Regions from separate parts of the Homo sapiens genome. Here region 2 is linked to region 1. The links come from fine-mapping of genetic effects on gene expression. A gene starts in region 1. The other region holds a variant in brackets. All regions are shown on one strand. Distances are from middle to middle.

Region 1 (5,365 bases):
AAAAATGTAAATCAAAACGAACAAAAAATAAAAAATAAAAAAGTAAGACCGAATTGTTACGACCAGAATTCAAAATAACAAAAAGGGAGGGTGAACCTGGGAAGGGAACATTAAAAAACGATTTTTTTAAAAAAGCCATCATGCTTTTGCATAGCAAAGTATAATTTCTTGATTATAATGCCAAGCTAGGAGAGGCCCACAGACCGCGGGGAATCTCCTGCCTTTTAAAAGCCTAACAAAATTGCACATTCAAACACAGATACCATCCATCAAGCAAAAGGCTCCTGGGCAGAAAAGTAGGCGCCGGTTTGCTGTTCTCTCCAGTGATCCCGGAGATCAAGGCGATAGACTGCCCTGGGAAGCCAAGGAGGCACTGAGGAGTGTCCACTGGTAGCCTATGGGGCTGGAAGCTAACCTGGGAAGTCAAGGAGGCACTGAGGAGTGTCCACTGGTAGCCTATGGGGCTGGAAGCTAACCCCCCTCCCTTCTGCAGTTTGTCCCCCTACCTGTGTGGGTTCGCAGGTGTGCCTTGAGATGGGAACTCTTTGTGTAGGTTTTGCCGCAGCCCGCGTAATCACAAGTGTGGGTGGCGGTCCTTTTCCGGGGCCACGATCGTCTTCCCCTCTTTGGCTTGGGCTCCTCTGGCATGCAGGAACCGGGTGGCATGAGCTCTAGGGGTGAAGAAGGTGGGGTGAGCATCATCCCGTGTGTCCCGAAGTGGGGCCAGCACACACAGGGCTCCCCAGCCCGAGCTACAAATCCCCGGGACTGACCTTGGTAATGGAGCGGCGGGACTTGCGGCTGCATCTGATCGGGCAGGAAGGATGGGTAATTGGGCCCCGGGTGGGGATGGAAGCCGGGAGGAAGCGGCAGGGCAGGGTGACAGTCCCTGCTGCTCAGCACTTCCTCAAGACCCAGGGTCGGGGTAGTCCTGCTGGGGAGCTGCCGCCCCAGGGGGAAGTCGTGTGCAGCCGGCCGGTGGCCATTGCTGAGAGGGGGTCCAGCGCCCAAGTGGGTGCACGAAGAGACCGCCTCCTGCTTGATCTTGGGGCACGTGCGCGGCGGCCCGCCGTTGTAGGGCGCCACCACCACCGGGTGGCTGCCGTCAGGGCTGCCTTTGCTGACGCTGATGACCGACGGGCTGCCGTACTCGCTGCCAGGGGCGCTCAGCGACGCCTTCAGCACGAACTTGCCCATCAGCCCGCCACCTGGCGGCTGCGGCTGCTGCGGCGGAATGTACACCGGGTCCAATTCTGGCCGCAGGAGCTCGGCCACGAAGCCGCCCGAGGGGCTCACGTCGTTGATGTCCGCCAGGTTGAAGGGAGCCGTCGGAGGGGGAGCGGACTCCCTGCCATAGAGGAGGCCTCCGCCCGTGCCGCCCGGCGCCACGCCCGGGTCGTTCCCGGCCCGGATCGGATAGGTGAAGCTGCAGGTGGAGGGCGCGCTGGCAGGGCCGCTGCTCGACGGCGACGACGAAGAGGAGGCTGACGCTGACGAGGACACGGTGGCGGCCACTGACTCCGGAGGATGGGTCAGCGAATTGGAGAGAATAAAGTCCAGGTCCAGGAGATCGTTGAACTCCTCGGTCTCTCTCCGAGGTAGGGGCGCCAGGTTGCTACCGCCGCAAGCCGCACCGGCTCCGCCGCTCTCCAGGTCTGTGGCCACGGTCGCCGCCGCCAGGTCATAGGGGCGGCCGGGAAGCACTGGGGGAAGTCGCTTCATGTGGGAGAGCTCCTCCCGCCAGCGCTGCGGGGACAGGGCGGGAGAGACCTGTCAGTGGTGGTCCCCTGTTGCCACCCGACATACTGACGTGCTGGCGGGCCACGCGCGACTGCACCGCCCAGACATGGGGACTGGTCAGGCAGGAAGCACCCGGGAACCCAGGGCGCCAGCGCTGCAATCTCGGCCCACTCCCGGGTCGAAGAAGAGGTGATGCGTCTGTATTGCGGGTGTTATGTCCTGTCTGCCCAATTGCGTGTGAGCGAGCGCCGCGGCTGGTCCCTCCCCCTCCAGGTCCCGTGGACGTCCCCGGAATTGGCACACCGAGGCTCTCTCGGTGCGCTCTCGCCACGGGGCCGCCTACGCGCTAAACTCACTCTGGCCCAGCCAGTGTCTGGGGACGCGGCCACCTCCCGCCCGGTGGCCCGAGAGCGCCCGCCCTACCGACAGCGCGCCCGGGGACTGGTGAAGACCCGGCTTGCGCCCCAGGCGGCTCCGCAGTGCTCGCACCACGGGCATACACAGCTGAGCCAAGGACACGGAAGCTATCCCGGGAAGGTTGCGGAGTCCGCGCGGTGGCCGCTCCTTACCCTCGTTCAGTGGCTCTTGGTGACCCCAAGGCTCCGCCCGCCCCCACCACACCCACGAAAACCCACCGGGCGTTCCCGGCGGCCCGGAGCGATACTCACGTTATTCGGGGCACCTGCTTGACGCAGTGTCTTCTCCCTTCCCGCCGGGCCAGACGCGAACGTGGAGAAAGATGGGAGCAGCGCGTCGCTGACAGCCATGTCAGACTCGCCAGGTGGCTGCCTGCGAGCAAGGCAGGGAGCGGAGACAGGAGAGTCAGGGGCGGCTTTCGGCCGTCGTTCCGGCGCGTCCCACCGGTCCTCACCCCTCCCTGCTCCCAGCGCCGCGCGCCTCACCTACCTCATTAATGTGGGGGCCCAGAAGGTCCTCGGCAGCCCGAAGCAGCTGGGGCACCTGAACCCCAAAGTCAACGAAGAGAAGAAACGAAGCCAAAACCCAAAACCCCAAATTGGCCGAGATCCTTCTTCTTTGGATTAAATATAACTTGGAAGCGTCTTTTTTAAAAAGTTCCTTTGTATACAAAAGTTCTTAGAAAAGTTGTAAACGCAAAAATAGACAATCAGCAAGGCGAGTAAGTAGGTCCGGTGGCCGGGCTGCGCTCTCTTCCACTCAGCAGCGTCCCCCACCACTGTCGCGGTCGCCTCGAGTGCTGCCGTGGGCGCAGGGGCTGTGGCCGGGGCGGTGGGCGGGCGGTGCCGCCAGGTGAGACTGGCTGCCGTGGCGCGGAGCTGCGAACTGGTCGGCGGCGCAAGGCGCGGACTCCGGTGAGTTGTGTGGAGCGCGCGCGGCCATGGGCGCGGGCCACGGGCGGGTGGGAGGGTGGGGGGCCAGAGGGGCGGGGGAGGGTCACTCGGCGGCTCCCGGTGCCGCCGCCGCCCGCCACCGCCTCTGCTCCCCGCGCGCCCGCAGACACGTTCGTTCTCTCTGGTCGGGAAACTGCCGGCCGCCGGCGCGCGTTCCTTACTTATAACTTCCTTCGCTACAGCCTTTTCCTCCGCCTTCTCCCATGCCCCGCCCCTCCCTTTCTTCTCTCCGCCCCCCCCGAGGCTCCCTTCCATCGTTGCTATGGCAGCTAAATCAACAAACTCGGCGCACGTGGGGGCGGGGGAGGGGAAGGAGGGGCGCGGGCGGGGCTGGGCCGGGCCGTGACGCCAGCCAGGCAGCTGGCGGGCTGGAGCCGAGCTGACGCCGGCGGCAGTGGTGTCGGCGGCGGCGGCGGCGTCCGCCCCAGCGCGGGGCGCGAGGAACCGGGCGCAGGTTCGGTCGCTGCGCGACCAGGGCCGTACTCACCGCCATTGTCGGCTCCCTGGGTTCGAAGCCCGCGAAGACTGGTGGGGTCAGCGGGCGGCACGGTCACGCGTCCGCACCCCTGCTAGCATACGCGCTTGCCGCGCTGTCTGCGCGCTGGAGAAGAGCGCGATTATCCGCGTGACTCATCCAGCCCTCCATCTCCCCCTCCCTCTCTGCGCTCGCAGGAGTCCGCTCTCGTCGCTCAGCGCCAGTGCCGGTGGCGGTGCCGGCGCTCGGCCTGACCTCGCACGGTTCCTCGCGGGCCCTTCTGCTGAGGGGTGGGGGGCGCTAGGGGTGTGGAGAGGAGGCAGTGCCCAGCACTGTGCAGCGTGAACTGGGAGCCTCAAGAGAAGGCCAGAGGAGTGTTCCGCCGGGAACAGGCGGAAAGAGGCACGAATGGGGAGTTATGGTTTTGATACTTTAAATAGCGAGAAAGGGAGTGAAAGGGCTCAAGATTTACTCAGAGGCATAAGGGAGAGAAGAGGGACTGTGAGGCGCGGAGACAGTTTTCAACCAGCCATCTCGAAGCCCTTTCCTTTTTTTTTCTTTCTTTTTTTTTTTTTTGTGAGACAGAGTCTCGCTGTGTCGCCCAAGCTGGAATGCAGTGGCACGATCTCAGCTCAGTGCAACCTCCGCCTCCTGCGTCCAAGCGATTCTCCTGCGTCAGCCTCCCGAGTAGCGGGGATTACAGGCGTGCGCCACGACGCCGGCTAATTTTTGTATTTTTCGTGGAGACGGGGTTTCACCATGTTGGCCAGGCAGGTCTCGAACACCTGACCTCAAGTGATCAGCCTGCCTCGGCCTCCCGAAGTGCTGGGATTACAGGCGTGAGCCACTGCCTGTAATATTTGATGACTAAATTGCACTGTAGAATAATAATAATAATAGAAGACACCCATTAAAGAAGAATTAAACACTCACTGATGACTTTTCAAGCCACGCACTCTCCTTTCCACTTTATGGATGAGAAATTGAGTCATAAAGAGGTGAAATGGCCAGTAAAGGTCAAAGGACAACTCGTTCCTTCGGCTCAGGCTCCGGGTAGGTCAGGCCCCCCTAAAGGGACTTCCCTGGGAAGTGACCATGTGCCAGGAAGTGGAGCGATGCGGTGGGATCCTAGCTCTCAAAAAGTGCACACCGAGCCCGCCGCAGGCGTCCTTGCCCACCGGGAAGGGAATAGGAAACGGCGATCTTTACTTCAATCTTATAACGCTGCCTCCCCCACCCCCACTCTCCCCTTGGTTTGTGATCAGTAATTTTCCAGCTGGGAAATGTTTTGCTCTCATCTTCTTAGCAAACAGTATTTTTTTTTAAAACGTGAATGTGGTGTTCGGTATCACTTTCTAAACGTAGGTTTGGCGAGGTGTTTACTTTGGATTCCGGCGTTCGGCGCGGGACTCCGCCCCCCTCTCCACGGAGCCCCCTCACCGGCGAACGCTGGCGCTTAGGCTGGTGTCAACCTAGGAAAGAGAAGAGAGGGGACACTGGGGAAAGTGGTGGAAGCTCGGGCACCGGGCAGAGAGTGCGCTCACCCCTTTTTGAGTTCTAGTTGCCAATGTCCTTTGTCGTTGTCACCTGTTTGAACCCTGCGATTCTGGTACCTATTAGGTTTCCTCAGAATATTTGTGATACCTGATTTTTCCACTCCTCGCCGACCACAGAAGCATTCTTGGAATGCATCTCGCCCCGAATGAATTGACTCGGCCCTCCCTGCCAACGCCAGGAATCCCTCTAAGATCCAGAGTCGGACGCCCTTGAGTGTGACTTC
Region 2 (5,365 bases), 120 kb after region 1:
ACCAGAGCTTAAGCTTTGTTCTTGTTGTTGTTGAGACAGTGTATTAGTCAGGGTTTCCTAGGGGGATAGATAGATAGATAGATAGATAGATAGATAGATAGATAGATAAATTAAGCATTAACTTACATGATCACAAGGTCCCACAATAGGTTGTCTGCAAACTTGAGGAGCACGGAGTGTAGTCCGAGTCTCAAAACTGAAGAAATTGGAGTCTGATGTTTGAGGGCAGGAAGCGTTCAGCAAGGGAGAAAGATGTAGGCTAGGAGGCTAGTCAGTCTCACGTTTTCATGTTTTTCTGCCTCCTTTAGATTTACTGGCAGCTGATTAGATTATACCCATCAGATTAAGGGTGGGTCTGCCTTCCCCAGCCCACTGACTCAAATGTTAATCTCTTTTGGCAACACCCTCACAGACACACCCAGGACCAATACTTCGCATCCTTCAATTCAATCAAATTGACACTCAGCGTTAACCATCACAGATGGAGTCTTGCTCTGTCGCCCAGGCTGGAGTACAGTGGCACGATCTCTGCTCACTGCAACAGGCACTTCCAGATTCAAGAGATTCTCCTGCCTCAGCATCCCAAGTAGCTAATTTTTTGTAATTTTAGTACAGATGGGGTTTCACCATGTTGCCCAGGCTGGTCTTGAACTCCTGGCCTCAGGCGATCTGCCCACTTCGGCCTCCCAAAGTGCTGGAATTATAGACGTGAACCACTGTGCATGGCCCAGAGCCCAAGCTTTGACTTCAGAAGTTTTAGTTCCTAGCTTTGTTTTCTTTCCTACCTTGAACAAACCAGTAGACCTTTCCTCTGCTTCAGTTTTTTTCCTAGCATTAGCACAAAGATCCTTACCTCCTGGGAGTAGGGGGAGTGGTGGGAATCAAAAGTGATGTGAGATGCGTCTGGATTTTATAATCTGAAGGGTGTTATGCTAGGGCTTGTTATTGCCAATAGATGGATGAACCGTCTGGGGGTGGGATCCCAAGCCACCCCCACTTTGTCACTCTTTCTCCTCTCCCTTCCTTGCATGTCTGGTTTCTAGCTCTCTTATATCCTTATATATTAATCAGTTTATTTGCCAAATATTCACTGAGTGGCTGCACTATCCCTGCCCCAGTGCTAGGTGCTGGGTTATGGTGGTGAACAAGTCTTGTTTGGGGAGTTGTAGGGGTGTATTTGTGTGTGCGTGTGAGTGTGTGTTTGCACCTGTACATGTGTGCAGTAGGGAGAGCAGAGACAGGAATGAAGGACCCCTCCCCAACCCCAGCAACCTGTTGGCTTTTTTTTTTTTTTTCAGGGGGGACAGAGTCTCACTCTGTTGTCTAGGCTGGAGTGCAGTGACATGATCTTGGCTAACCTCCACCTCCTGGGTTCAAGCGATTCTCATACCTCAGCCTCCGGAGTAGCTGGGGTGGCAGGCGTGTGCCGCCATGTCCTGCTAATTTTTGTATTTTTAGTAGAGATAGGGTCTTACCATGTTGCCCAGGCTCGTCTCAAGCTCCTGGCCTCAAGTGATCCATCCACCTTGGCCTCCAAAAGTGCTGGGATTACGGGCATGAGCTATCACATATGGCTAATTTTTGTATTTTTAGTAGAGACAGGGTTTTGCCATGTTGGTCAGGCTGGTCTCAAACTCCTGGCCTTATGTGGTCTGCCTGCCTTGGCCTCCCAAAGTGCTGGGATTACAGGCATGAGCCACCTTGCCTGGCCGTGAGGTCTTCTCACAGATTATTCTGCCTGTTTATTTGCAAAAAGGTGGGGACCCTTGGCTTTCAATGATAATTGTGTGTGTGAAGAACTGGCAGGTCATCAACTGTAATTTTTTTTAATTAAAAAATTAAGATGATCTTCAAAGGCACAAAATTAAAAACACCGGGAATGAAAATCACTAGGTTTCTCATTTGGTGTGGACACAACGGTTTGCTTCCTCTGATTTCTCCCCAGAGGCCCAGGGTATGGAGCAACCTCAGGCCAGCCTGCTTGGCTCTTCCTCATTTGGCCAGGGCGCTTGCTGAGTGTGAAGCCTTCTTCCAGGGCTCTTCATGTGAACAAACTGCATGCAGCCCTTGATTTCGTCACTGCCTGCAAGGGCTCAGGACCCTCCAAGCGTGCTTTTCATCTGGGAAATCTTTATTCTTTTATACTCTTCTGTCTGTCATCAGGATTTGGGCCTGATAACATAGTTTGAAACACTCCAGAGGTTTTGTCAAATGCCACTTTAGCTTTCTGGTGAAGACTCAAAGAATATATGC[T/C]GGGCTGAGGCTGGCACATTTATCCTTCTGGCCATTTTGGTAATTGGCTTTTGGGGAAGTGTGCTCCCCATGGGGGCCTCTCTGAAACCTCCATACTAAGGCGTGGATGGGAAAAACAAAAACCTTTCCAGAGCAAGCTGAAGGGTGAGAAAGAAATAACCTTTTTTTTTTTTTTTTTTTTTTTTTTAAGACAGAGTCTCGCTCAGTTGCCCAGGCTGAAGTGCAGTGGTATGATCTCGGCTCACTGCAACCTCTGCCTCCCAGGTTCAAACGATTCTCCTGCCTCAGGAGTAGCTGGGATTATAGCCATGCACCACCACCCCTGGCTAATTTTTGTAGCTTTAGTAGAGATGGGGTTTTGCCATATTGGCCAGGCTGGTCTCGAACTCCTGACCTGAGGCGATCCGCCCACCTCGGCCTCCCAGAGTGCTGGGATTACAGGCGCGAGCCACTGCTCCTGGCCAGAATAACATTTTTGTTCACCCCAGTCCTATCCTTTTCTGTCTGCTCTATTCACCCACGTACCTTTTGGTGGCCGTCATTAAAGGCAGAGGCTCTGCTTCTTTGGTTCATGAATTATTTGCAGAAAACTTGCTTTGCCTGGGTTCTAGACTCGTTCAACATTGGGCCTTTGGCTGTAATTCCTATCTTCGGTCTTTCTCTTGCTCCTGCCCCTCATATTGACCAATTTATTTAGGTTCCCCCAGCTCAGTGCTTGGAGTTCCCTCAGGATCTGCCTTGGACTCCATCCTACTGGCCTTCCATAGGGTTCTCCAATTCCGGAAGTGCTCTGCAGGCCTCAGTCTCTAGCCTGGACTTGCTTAGTGGGTTCATCCAAGACTCAGATGCTTACCATGGACCCAGCACTGACCAGACACCTGGAGGTTTGTTTGATCTGGTTGGCTCACACTGGGGGCAGCTTGTTCTTAGGATTCCTTTCCCTGAATCCCCAGAGGGCTTGATTCCCTACCCTTCACCCCCAACAGGTGTCCAGCATGCCTGTTGCCTGTGCTGAGGCAGTAAAACAATTCTTCAGTGCTATAAACTCAAGGGCTCACCTGTTGAAGGTCAGTGTGTTCAGAGGTGTTTTTACAGCCAGTAAACATAGCACCCATTTACAGTGGAGCACATTGGGTTGTAAATTATTTCACCGATAGCACTAGCCCCTTATTGACAGAGAAATGGGGGAAATTACACAACCACTCTATATGGTGAGAAAATGCAGTTCTGGTGATACCCATGGACTGCCTGTATCATTCTACTGATGAATTATTTCTTTTCTTTCCCCACCCCCAGCCTGTTATTTAACATTGGATTTTGGCTACAGACCCAAGCCACATTTGCTCAGTTTTTTTGTTTTTTTTCTCTGCTAGTACTATAGCCTTTGAAAGGCATTCATTTTGCCTAAGCTGGCTATGTGATGGGTGTTTCCTAGATGTGAGACTCTGTCATTGACAACTAGTGAACTTTGGGACTTAAAGGTATTTCAGGAATTGATGGGGACTACTCATGTGCTGTCTTCTGCTTTGGGATGACTTCTAGGAGCCCTGGCCACTGCTACCATGGGCAAAGACTGGGTGTTCCTGCCCCATGACTATGCAGAAGGAAACCCCAAATCACCTGCTAGCAAGCATATTCTGTTGCTTGGCACCTCGTTCTTCATCCCGTTTGCCCTTTAAGCTGGGCCCAGGACACTGAAAACTTGGAGAAGGACTGAAAAATTACAGATCATTGAACTGAGTGTCTGGTAGCTCCTGGGGAGTAGGGAGGCCATTGGATAGGAAGCCAGACACAGATTAGAAAACTGGAACTGCTATTGTCCAGCTAAGTTCACTTGAACACTTCACATCTCCCTGGGCCTCAGTTTCTTCATCTGTAAAATGGGCCTAACAGGGTCTACCTTGTAAGGGAAAGGTAAAATGAAAATGCCTGCAAAAGAGCATGGCATGTCGTATCACAGACCACACAGGTTCTAAGCAAGCTGTCCAGGGCCACTCAGCAGTTCCTCCTCCTCTCCTCATCCTGAGAAGGACTGATGGGACTGAAGAAGACCCTGGACACTCTCTCAGGGTCCCAGTGCTTGTGAGGCTGGGCATGGTGTGACATGCCCTGGAGCGTGGGGCACTCACACATTGTGAATGGGCACCTGGCCGGCCAGCCTGCCACACTGTCCTTCAAGAGCCCTGTCACAAATCTCCGCTGATCGTTCTCTGTTAGAGCTCTGCTTTACCCATGGTTTGGGTTGAATTGACCTGGGGGTTCAGGGCAAAGCCAGGCAGAGAGGAATGGAGAGCCACTGGGCCACCGAGTGCACAGGTGCTGGCCCTTCCAACTCAATCGGTCTCACAACCCTGGCGGAAGGCGCCAGAGGCTTGTAAAAGACCAGGATGTTTCTACAGGTGTTTGCAGTAAAGGGCTTTCCCTACTCCCAGACTTCAGTTCAAGACTGGTTTGGGTCTGGGAGTTTCTCACTTTCCCTAATTCCTGAACAAACAAAACAAATCCATTTTGAGCTTCTGGCTGGATTCCCTCCCCACACAGAGGAAGAGAGAAACTATGATCCACAAGCACCTGCCATATCATCCGTGAGATAGCACACTGATCCTGACAGCAGCCCCCACCCCCAGGCTGGAGTGAATAACCCCCACGCAGAGGGAACGAAGGCCCATGGAAGTGGAGGTCATGCAGTCAGGAGGTGGAAGGTGGTATCTGAACCGAGGACTTGAGCCCCCAAACCCTACACAACTTTACTGCTTCTGAGGCTATGAAGGAGAAAGATTGAAGCAGGGCCTGAGAAAAAGGCCAAGTGGATTAGTGAGGAGGCTGGGGAGAGGAGGAAAAGGGAAATATATAAATAAATGCACACAGTTATTGCCTCATCAAGGCAAATGAAGTTTGCTCATGTGGTGGGAAATTGTGAAACTTGGCTATGAAAGCTTTATGTTAGATAGATTGTGAGGCCCACATGATGAGAGTTCTCCCAGCACACCCTTTTCTCTCCAGCCTCTAATCAGAGATCCGGTTGCTGGTTCATGCTTTTCTACCCAGCTTGATCAGATTTATTGAAACAGCCATTTTTCTTACTCAACCACCTCTTCTTGGAAGTTCTGCA

What was found.
Region 2: its variant is fine-mapped to the expression of KLF4 in whole blood (TOPMed, PIP 0.95).

What each region holds. Positions count from the first base shown.
Region 1 is chr9:107,486,522-107,491,886 of GRCh38, forward strand. It overlaps KLF4 (KLF transcription factor 4), which reads right to left and starts at 3,248. Exons shown (of 5, transcript NM_004235.6): 1 at 2,647-3,248; 2 at 2,409-2,529; 3 at 774-1,746; 4 at 507-671. The coding sequence starts at 2,651. RefSeq lists silencers at 2,060-2,109, 2,761-2,960, 3,320-3,529.
Region 2 is chr9:107,610,285-107,615,649 of GRCh38, forward strand. All of the region lies in intron 5 of LOC105376205 (a long non-coding RNA gene), which reads left to right. Among named protein-coding and RNA genes, the nearest start is that of KLF4, 120 kb to the left of the region's middle. The variant T/C (reference allele first, on the strand shown) is at 2,254.